Linked DNA regions of Homo sapiens. Changing the gene in region 3 together with the main gene of any one other region gives a genetic interaction. Each region holds a gene or a part of one and is shown on either strand. Other genes may lie near its edges.

Region 1 (3,329 bases), on a different chromosome or scaffold from region 3:
TCTCTCCCGACCCCCTCCTCTTCTCTGCATCTCTCTCTCTGCCTCCTCTCCTCTGCACCTCTCTCCCAACCCCCAGGTCCTCTCAGGCCTAGCTCAGATGATGCGGGAGTGCTGGTACCCAAACCCCTCTGCCCGACTCACCGCGCTGCGGATCAAGAAGACACTACAAAAAATTAGCAACAGTCCAGAGAAGCCTAAAGTGATTCAATAGCCCAGGAGCACCTGATTCCTTTCTGCCTGCAGGGGGCTGGGGGGGTGGGGGGCAGTGGATGGTGCCCTATCTGGGTAGAGGTAGTGTGAGTGTGGTGTGTGCTGGGGATGGGCAGCTGCGCCTGCCTGCTCGGCCCCCAGCCCACCCAGCCAAAAATACAGCTGGGCTGAAACCTGATCCCCTGCTGTCTGGCCTGCTCAAAGCGGCAGGCTCCCTGACGCCTGGCTCTCTCCCCACCCCTATGGCCAGCATGGTGCACCCCCTACCACTCCCGGGACAGGATGCAAAAGAGGCTCCAGAGTCAGAGTGCCAAGCCAGGGAATCCCAGTCCCAGACTCAGAGCCCGGGCCTGCACTTTGCCCCCTGCCCTTGATCAACCCCACTGCCCCACCAGAGCTGCCAGGGTGGCACAGGGCCCTGTCCAGCCCCTGGCACACACTTCCCTGCCAGGCCTCAGCCTCTAGCATAAGCTCCAGAGAGCCAGGGCCCATCAGTTTCTCTCTGTGGATTTGTATCTCAGCTCCATGATGCCTTGGGCTTTCTGTCTCCTCAACAAGAGTGCAGCTTGCTGAATGTCAGCTGCCTGAGAGAGCTGGGGCCTGACTTACTAGGGCATTAAATCCTAAGAGGTCCTACTGAGGTGTGGCAGGATCACAGGCCAGTGGAAAAAGGGCAGGTCAGATGGGCAAGGCCCAGGACTTTCAGATTAACTGAGAGGATATCGAGGCCAAGCATGGCAGGGGGAAGGTCAGTGGGTGTCAAGAGACCCAGGTCTGACCCCGGATGTTTGCTCCATGTGACAAAAGCAGGCCTGTCTCAGGACCTTTTCTTTTCTTTTTTCCTTCTTTTTTTTTTTGACACGGAGTTTCGCTCTTGTTGTCCAGGCTAGAGTGCAATGGCATGATCCCAGCTCACCGCAACGTCTACCTCCCAGGTTCAAATCATTCTCTTGCCTCAGACTCCCGAGTAGCTGGGATTACAGGCACATGCCACCATGCCTGGCTAATTTTGTATATTTAGTAGAAACAGGGTTTCACCATGCTGGCCATGCTGGTCTCGAACTCCTGACCTCAGGTGTTCCACCTACCTCAGCCTCCCAAAGTGCTGGGGTTACAGGTGTGAGCCATCGCGCCTGGCCAGGACCTTTGTTTCTTATCTACATATTGGAAGATTTGGTCCTGATGTCCTTTGAGGCTTCTTTAGCTCTAGTTCTCTGACACTTCAGCCTATATCACAGCTAACTTCTTCAGTCTCATCTATTCCTTATGCTCCAGCCCCTGGCAATTTGCCTCAAGATGGGGGTTTGAAAATAACTTTACCTGACTCAAGGAGTGTCTGGAGCACCTCCTAGTCTAAGTCTGCAAGCTCCAGTTCTTGCCTAAAACCATGCCAGTGGCCACCCTTGGGCTCAGACAGCTCTGGGCCTTTTGACCACAAGCCAGCCCCTCGCCCTCTCTGTGGCATAGTCTTCTCTGCCCCAGGACTGCAGGGCGGCTTCCTCCAAGGCTTCCAAGGCTCAAAAGAAATTTGGCTCCATCCAAGAAGGCTCCAGCTCCCCTACTGGCCCCTGGCTCAGGCCCACACCCCTGGCCAGGCCCAGAGAGTGTGTCTCAGGAGAATTCAATGGCTCTAGAGAGACACACAGAAAGTTTGGCATTTGGAAATTTCAAGGATGTATGTATGCTCACGTATGGAGCAGGTTGTCCTGGTCCCTGGGTGCAGGGAAGTGGGCTGCAGGGAAGTGGATTGGAGGGGAGCTTGAGGAATATAAGGAGCGGGGGTGGAGACTCAGGCTATGGACAAGGACAGCCCCAAGGTTGGGAAGACCTGGCCTTAGTCGTCCTCAGCCTAGGGGCAGGGCAGTGAAGAAAGCTCTCCCCGCTCCTGCTGTAATGACCCAGAGTAGCCTCCCCAGGCCGGCATCTTATGTGTGTCTTCCACCATCCTCATGGTGGCACTTTTCTAGGCCTGTCTCCCAGCATTGTGCAAGGCTCGGAAGAGAACCAGGAAGTGAAACTGGGTGAAAACAGAAAGCTCAATGGATGGGCTAGGTTCCCAGATCATTAGGGCAGAGTTTGCACGTCCTCTGGTCACTGGAATCCACCCAGCCCACGAATCATCTCCCTCTTGAAGGATTTTATTTCTACTGGGTTTTGGAACAAACTCCTGCTGAGACCCCACAGCCAGAAACTGAAAGCAGCAGCTCCCCAAAGCCTGGAAAATCCCTAAGAGAAGGCCTGGGGCAGGAAGTGGAGTGACAGGGGACAGGTAGAGAGAAGGGGGCCCAATGGCCAGGGAGTGAAGGAGGTGGCGTTGCTGAGAGCAGTCTGCACATGCTTCTGTCTGAGTGCAGGAAGGTGTTCCAGGGTCGAAATTACACTTCTCGTACCTGGAGACGCTGTTTGTGGGAGCACTGGGCTCATGCCTGGCACACAATAGGTCTGCAATAAACCATGGTTAAATCCTGAGCTCCGGAGTCTTCCCAGGCCGATGCCTCTGCAGTGGCCCGTCGCAGAGGTCCAGATAAAACCAGAGGGATCCGGGGAGAAGAGGGTCCCAGGATACACGCCCAGCTTTGCCCTTAGACAGGTCACAGTTTCCTCACGCCCCTGCTCAGACCCCCGCGGGGGCCCAAATCTCAGTTCCTACCCCAGATTGGGAGCAGCCTAGTCGCCGCACCTGCCACGTCGCCCTCTGCTGGCCGAGGGCTGCCCAGCGGCCGCCTCCCATCCCCACACAGGGACCGCGGGGCCTTTCCCGGCAGGGTGGGGCAGCCTTCCCCGCACCCGGGGGCCAACGTCTGTGTGCTCACTGACTTGCTGTTCTGCAGGGACTGTCCCCCTAATACCACACCTAGCGAAGAGCGTTCTGCTTCCGAACCGGCAGCTTGGACCCTCCCTCCTCAATTCCTTGTTCTCACTTCCCTTCTCAAATGGGGTCCCCATCTTGCCAGGAGTCAGTCCCCATTCCCAGCATGGGAAGATCCCCTTCCCTGGGGACCTACCTTGTCCTGGGATCAGAAGGCACTTCACACACACATCCCATTCTCACACCCGGAAATTCGGGGCGGGGACATGCTGTGGGGGAGGCAGATACTAAAAGAAGCTGAGAGGGTCCT
Region 2 (3,650 bases), on a different chromosome or scaffold from region 3:
CAGAGGTACACTTACTAATACTTTGCTGCCTTTTGTGTAGCTTCTTCTCAGTACTTCACCAGTTGGGATTGACACACACCTCTACAGCTGGGTTCAGGAGCCAGACAGCAGCACACAGAACGGGGAATCCAAAGCCATCTCTGACACTAAAAGCAATGAAAACAAAAATAACCAAACATATTATCAAGAAATGAACAAGAGATTGATATCAAGTAAAGCAAGAAGAGAAGAAAGCATTTAATCTGCCAGGCTTTCATTCTGACAAAATAATTTACAACATGCATGTCTCTATCTGACATGAGTGAATAGAAAAAGAACCCAAATACCCAGTTGAATTGCAAGATGAAAATGAAAAAGAACTCTTGCTTATTCGCCAGGGTACAATCTAATCTGGGCTACTAAAACACTTTCATGCACTGATTCTATGTAACACATGCTTTATTGCCATTTGGAAATGGGATTTCTTGCTTTGATTTAAATATACTTCCTTGGATTTGTGCTTTAAGTATACTTTCTTAAACATATTCACAGCTACATTCTCAGTACAAATTTTCAGGTGTAAGTAACTACTTCTGCTTTTGATAGTATAATTGGTGAAATAAGCTATACTTCCATGTAAATGTGAGAGTACAAGGTAAGATTCCAGAGTCAAGTAAAACATAACAGTCAAGAAAATAAAAAGGTGAGAGTAACTGGGCAGTGGGGAAATCTTGTGTGTGGAAAGAATGAATCTGTAAAACTGTTCTTTCCTAAGAGAGTTCAGCAGGATTTGGATGATAGAGAGCTTTGTGTACAAGGGTTCCAGTTCCACATAGTTTAGGTCTAATTTCAAAGGCAACTTCTAGTGCAACCTGTGACTCACGCTGTCCTAAAGTGCCGAATGTAAAGGGTCTGGAGATAACCCACAAGCAGCACTGTGAACCCCTGACAGCAAGCCTTTCCAGATAAATACCTGTCAGTGTCTACAGCTGATGACAGAGCAGAATATCTGAAAAATAATACTTCTTCGGCCAGTGGACTGCCAGTCACTATTATTTAGTGTAAAATACTATATTACATATGTGTAATTTTTTAAATTGCAGTGTTTCACATCGAAGCAATTAAATATAAAAACCAAATGTTTATTCAGCTTAAAGGCAACTTAGAAATACTGATCCCAGATAGAAAGATGCTTTAGTCCCAAGTCAGCTGTTCTAAAATGCCACAACTAAACCAACGAAGGGATCTTGAAGCATAGTAAGTGTTCATACCTTTTCAGCTATACCTCTGCTTGTCTTGAATATAAAAACCTAAGCTGCAGTTATGCCACAGCACAGAATGTGTTATATTTTACATCACTGAGCCTTAGTTTTACAAATGGTAAAAAATAGGGAAGGTAAACTGAGGTTTTCTTAAGGAGCTGTTACATCCAAGAGACTCATGAAAATCTTTGCCAAATGTCCCCGGTACATAGCTCCTCCCCACTGATGGGCTCAACGGGGAGAAGCTATGCACATGTCTCAATTTGCATATGCTCAATGGCAATACAGGATTCCTAGGATAAAGTAAGGGATATAAATGACACAGCACACTGAAAAGACTGTAATGTTACTTCAGAATGTTGCAAAATAAAGATCACAGATGAAAGTTTTAGTTCACTGAAGCATGTAGTCATGTATATTTCATTTGTGTGTTTTAAAGTCTTATACTGCTTACATTCTCTTTTTTTGTTTGTTTTAAAATAATTATATTTGGCTACAAAGATCAATAACAAGGATGATGTCAGTCCAGGTTGGACAGGCAGTTCTGGGGCAGATGTTCTTGCAGTATTTTTTTTTTTTTTTTTTAGTATTTATTGATCATTCTTGGGTGTTTCTCGGAGAAGGGGATTTGGCAGGGTCATAGGACAATAGTGGAGGGAAGGTCAGCAGATAAACATGTGAACAAGGGTCTCTGGTTTTCCTAGGCAGAGGACCCTGCGGCCTTCCGCAGTTTTTGTGTCCCTGGGTACTTGAGATTAGGGAGCGGTGATGACTCTCAAGGAGCATGCTGCCTTCAAGCATCTGTTTAACAAAGCACATCTTGCACCGCTCTTAATCCATTTAACCCTGAGTGGACACAGCACATGTTTCAGAGAGCACCGGGTTGGGGGTAAGGTCATAGATCAACAGCATCCCAAGGCAGAAGAATTTTTCTTAGTACAGAACGAAATGGAGTCTCCTATGTCTACTTCCCTCCACACAGACACAGCAACAATCCGATTTCTCTATCTTTTCCCCACATTTCCCCCTTTTCTATTCAACAAAACCGCCATCGTCATCATGGCCCATTCTCAATGAGCTGTTGGGTACACCTCCCAGATGGGGTGGCGGCCGGGCAGAGGGGCTCCTCACTTCCCAGAAGGGGTGGCCGGGCAGAGGCGCCCCCCACCTCCCAGACGGGGCGGCAGCCGGGCAGAGGCGCCCCCCACCTCCCTCCCGGATGGGGTGGCTGGCGGGGCAGGGGCTGCCCCCCACCTCCCTCCCGGACGGGGCAGCTGGCCGGGCGGGGGCTGCCCCCCCACCTCCCGGACGGGGCGGCTGCCGGGCGGAGGGGCTCCTCACTTCTCAGAAGGGGCAGCTGCTGGGCGGCGGGGCTCCTCACTTCTCAGACAGGGCAGCTGCCAGGCGGAGGGGCTCCTCACTTCTCAGACAGGGCGGCTGGGCAGAGACGCTCCTCACCTCCCAGACGGGGTCGCGGCCAGGCAGAGGCGCTCCTCACATCCCAGACGGGGCGGCGGGGCAGAGGCGCTCCCCTCATCTCAGACGATGGGTGGCCGGGCCGAGACGCTCCTCACTTCCTAGACGGGATGGCAGCCGGGAAAAGGCGCTCCTCACTTCCCAGACTGGGCAGCCCGGGCAGAGGGGCTCCTCACATCCCAGACGATGGGCGGCCAGGCAGAGACGCTCCTCACTTCCCAGACGGGGTGGCAGCCGGGCAGAGGCTGCAATCTCGGCACTTTGGGAGGCCAAGGCAGGCGGCTGGGAGGTGGAGGTTGTAGCTAGCCGAGATCACGCCACTGCACTCCAGCCTGGGCAACATTGAGCACTGAGTGAACGAGACTCCATCTGCAATCCCGGCACCTCGGGAGGCCGAGGCTGGCAGATCACTCGCGGTTAGGAGCTGGAGACCAGCCCGGCCAACATGGCGAAACCCCGTCTCCACCAAAAAAAATACAAAAACCAGTCAGGCGTGGCGGCGTGCACCTGCAATCGCAGGCACTCAGCAGGCTGAGGCAGGAGAATCAGGCAGGGAGGGTGCAGTGAGCCGAGATGGCAGCAGTACAGTCCAGCTTCGGCTCGGCATCAGAGGGAGACCATGGAAAGAGAGGGAGAGGGAGACCGTGGGGAGAGGGAGAGGGAGACCGTGGGGAGAGGGAGAGTGAGAGGGAGAGCCAGAATTTTCTTTTTAAAGGCAGAATAATATTCTATGTATATACCACATTTTTCTTTTTTTGAGACAGGGTCACCTAGGCTGGAGTGCAGTGGCATGATCACGGCTCACTGCAGCCTTGACCTCCCCAAGCTCAAGTGATCTTCCCACCTCAGCCTCGGGAGTAGCATGTACCACCATGCTTAGCTCATTTTTTGTATTTTTAGTAGCTATGTTGTCCAGGCTAGTCTCCAACTCCT
Region 3 (3,650 bases):
AGGATGGTCTTGAACTCCTGAGCTCAAGCAATCCTCCTGCCTCCCAAAGTGCTGGGATTACAGGCATGAGCCACCACGCCTGGCTCATGCATGGCTTTTGTATTTCAGTGTAATTTTTGCTGACTTAAAGTTACAATTCATAAATGGTGTGAGTACATCAAGCTGCAGAGTGTTCCTAGCTGTCAAGGGCTGGAGTTCTTAATGTTTCCTCCTCCATTTTATTATAAAAAATTTTCCAGCACAGAAAGGTTGTAGTGAACACCCATATATGTAACAGCAAGATTCTACAATAAATATTTGCTGTATCCAGGCTGGGCAACATAGTGAGGCCCCGTTCTCTACAGGAAAAAAAAAAAAATTAGCTGGTCGCGGTGGTGCACATCTGTAGTCCCCACTGCCTGGGAGGCTGAGGTGGGAGGATTGCTTGAGCCTAGGAAGTCAAGGCTGCAGTGAGCTGTGATCACACCACTGCACTCCAGCCTGAGCAACAGAGTGAGACCCTGTCTCAAAAAAAAAAAAAATTGGGCCAGGAGTGGCTCACACCTGTAATCTCAGCACTTTGGGAGGCCGAGGTGGGCGGATCACGAGGTAGGGAGTTTGAGACCAGCGTGGCCAATGTGGTGAAATGCTGTCTCTATAAAAATATAAAAAATTAGTTGGGTGTGGTGGCGTGCGCCTGTAGTCCCAGCTACTCGGAAGGCTGAGGCAGGAGAATCAGTTGAGCCCGGGAGGCAGAGGTTGCAGTGAGCTGAGATCGTGCCATTGCACTCCAGCCTAGGTGACAGAGACAGAGTAAGACTCAGTCTTAAAAAAAAAAAAAAAAAAGCCATGTATTTTGTAATCTATCTACCTGTCCATTAATCTATCTTTTATTTTCATTTATTTCAAAGTAAGTTGTAGACATCAGTATACTTCATTCTAAACACTTTAACATGTTTACCATTAGCTGGATTACCCTTTTTTTTTTTTTGGAGGGGTGAGGAGTAAAATTTATATACAGTAAAATGCCTAAGTCTTAAGTGTAGCATTTGTAAAGCTGCTTTGTTTTTTGTTTTTTTTTGAGACAGAGTCTTGTTTTGTTGCCCAGGCTGGAGTGCAGTGGAGCGATCTCGGTTCACTGCAACCTCTGCCTCTCGGGTTCAAGCTATTCTCCTGCCTCAGCCTCCTGAGAGTAGCTGGAATTACAAGCGCCCACCATCACATCTGGCTAATTTTTGTGTTTTTTTAGTAGAGACAGGGCTTTACCATGTTGGCCAGGTTGGTCTCCAACTCCTGACCTCAGGTGATCCGCCAGCCTCGGCCTCCTAAAGTGCTGGGATTACAGGCGTGAGCCAATGCGCACAGCCATGCTGCTTAGTGTTTTAAGGAAGTCTAAAAAGTATTCTTAGGATATTTGTTTCTTGATAGAGTAGTTCATTAAGGCTGTAAAAATTGTTAACTTTAGGGTATGGGAATAGAGAAGAGTGTGCTAAGACTAAAACACTAAAAGGAGTTTCAGTAAGAAGTGCTTCTTTCTAGTGATTCCTTTTGGATTCTTAGGTAAAACAGCATATCTCATGTTCTCTTAAGAGAGTAGAGGAGGCTGGGCGTGGTGGCTTATGCCTATAATCCCAAGCACTTTGGGAGGCCAAGGCGGGCAGATCTCCTGAGGTCAGGAGTTTGAGACCAGCCTGGCCAGCGTGGTGAAACCCCGTCCCTACTAAAAATACAAAAATTAGCCAGGCGTGGTGGCATGCACCTATAATCCCAGCTACTCGGGAGGCTGAGGCAGGAGAATCGCTTGAACCTGGGAGGCAGAGGTTATAGTGAGCCAAAGTCACGCCACTGCACTCCAGCCTGGGCGACAGAATGAGACTGCGTCTCAAAAAAAAAAAAAAAGAAAGAAAAAGGCCAGGCGCAGTGGATCACGCCTGTAATCCTAGCACTTTGGGAGGCTGAGGCAGGCGGATCACCTGAGGTCGGGAGTTCGAGACCAGCCTGACCAACATGGAGAAACCCTTTCTCTACTAAAAATACAAAATTAGCTGGGCGTGGTGTCACATGCCTGTAATCCCAGCTACTTGGGAGGCTGAGGCAGGAGAATTGCTTGAACCCAGGAGGAGGAGGTTGAGGTGAGCCGCGATTGCAATAATTGCACTCCATCCTGGGCAACAAGAGTGAAACTCTATCTGAAAAAAAAAAAAAAAAAAAAAAAAAAAAAAAAAAAAAAAAGCAGATGAATCTCTACTCACATAATTTAGTCAGTAATGGTAAAAATAAGTTTAGAAAAAATTGGAGACACAATATGGTAGCGTAGCATGCAAATATAAACATATAATATTCCCAGAGACACATGCACGCTTTTAGTTGGCTTATAGAGAGCATTATATGTTTGTATGTGTGCATTACATGTTTTTCTTCATTGATTGAAATTCTAAACAGTACAAAAATTTTGTAGAGTCAGAGGAACATATAGATCCCTTCTATGATATTCTCTTGTGTTTTTTTCCTTGGGAGACAGTCAAAATGAAATAAGCAACATTTTATTTTATTTTATTTTATTTTATTTTTTTAATTTGAGACAGAGTTTCTGTCGCCAGGCTGGAGTGCAGTGGTGCGATCTCAGCTCACTGCAACCTCCGCCTCCCAGGTTCAAGCGATTCTCCTGCCTCAGCCTCCCAAGTAGCTGGGACTACAGGCGCGCGTCACCATGCCCAGCTAATTTTTGTATTTTTAGTAGAGACGGGGTTTCACCATGTTGGCCAGGATGGTCTTGATCTCTTGACCTCAGGATCTGCCTGCCTCAGCCTCCCAAAGCGCTGGGATTACAGGCATGAGCCACCATGCCCGGCGAAACAACCTAATTTTAAAAGACTGAAAATGCTTTGGCAGAAATGCAGTGTCTTTGCATCCGCTAGATTAGCAATGATTAATAGTTGAGTGGAACCTAACTTAATTCGGTGAGTGGGGGGGAAATACATTTGTTTTTGAAGACATTTCTTGAAGACACATTGCTTATTGCTGGCTGTGTTTACCTATTTGTTGTCTACTCCTCCGCTTTTTTCTAGAAGAGTGAACCTGGAACTTAAATGTAGCATTTGTATCACTAAAAATACCACAAGTATATGGCCATCCAAATCTGTTAACAGTAGGCTTCTGTGAGAAATTGAAGGGTTTCTAACAGACTTCCTTAGGAAGATTTGGTCATGCTGACTAAAACAGTAGTACTTGGTAGCTAGCTGGCATTAGTGTTTTGGGTTTTACATGTTTTCCCTGGGATAGAGATGTTACTTAGCTGTATTTCAAGCAGAGAAAAACTCTTGTTTCAGCCAAATATGTACAGAAGGAATGTTAGTTTTCTTAAGGGTAAGTGCATATTTGGTCAATATCAGTACCTTTCAGTATTTTATATTCTCATGTTCATGTTTGCGTTGTTGTTTTTTAGTCCTATTGATTCCAACAATATTTTTAGTTTTGTTTTTTTTTTTGAGATGGAGTGTCTCTCTGTCACCCAGGCTGGAGTGCAGTGGCGTGATCTTGGCTTACTGCAACCTCCGCCTCCCGGGTTCAAGCAATTCTCCTGCCTTAGCCTCCCGAGCAGCTGGGATTACAGGCGCACACCACCATGCCCGGCTAATTTTTTTGTATTTTTAGTAGAGCTGGGATTTCAC

Evidence for each region.
Region 1: changes in CDK12 (region 3) and ACVRL1 together harm fitness more than expected from each alone (negative genetic interaction), as found in Homo sapiens cells (one large-scale study listed by BioGRID).
Region 2: changes in CDK12 (region 3) and TIMM23B together harm fitness less than expected from each alone (positive genetic interaction), as found in Homo sapiens cells (one large-scale study listed by BioGRID).

Annotation. Positions count from the first base shown.
Region 1 is NC_000012.12:51,920,683-51,924,011, forward strand, and holds the end of ACVRL1 (activin receptor type-1-like isoform 1 precursor), read left to right. Parts: intron 1-76; coding exon 77-211; 3' UTR 212-2,679; downstream 2,680-3,329. UniProt on the Homo sapiens protein: Type I receptor for TGF-beta family ligands BMP9/GDF2 and BMP10 and important regulator of normal blood vessel development. On ligand binding, forms a receptor complex consisting of two type II and two type I transmembrane serine/threonine kinases.
Region 2 is NC_000010.11:49,969,508-49,973,157, reverse strand, and holds part of TIMM23B (mitochondrial import inner membrane translocase subunit Tim23B), read right to left. Parts: intron 3,117-3,650; exon of another isoform or gene 2,700-3,116; intron 147-2,699; coding exon 94-146; 3' UTR 1-93. UniProt on the Homo sapiens protein: May participate in the translocation of transit peptide-containing proteins across the mitochondrial inner membrane. the PAM complex.
Region 3 is NC_000017.11:39,464,445-39,468,094, forward strand, and holds part of CDK12 (cyclin-dependent kinase 12), read left to right. Parts: intron 1-3,650. UniProt on the Homo sapiens protein: Cyclin-dependent kinase that phosphorylates the C-terminal domain (CTD) of the large subunit of RNA polymerase II (POLR2A), thereby acting as a key regulator of transcription elongation.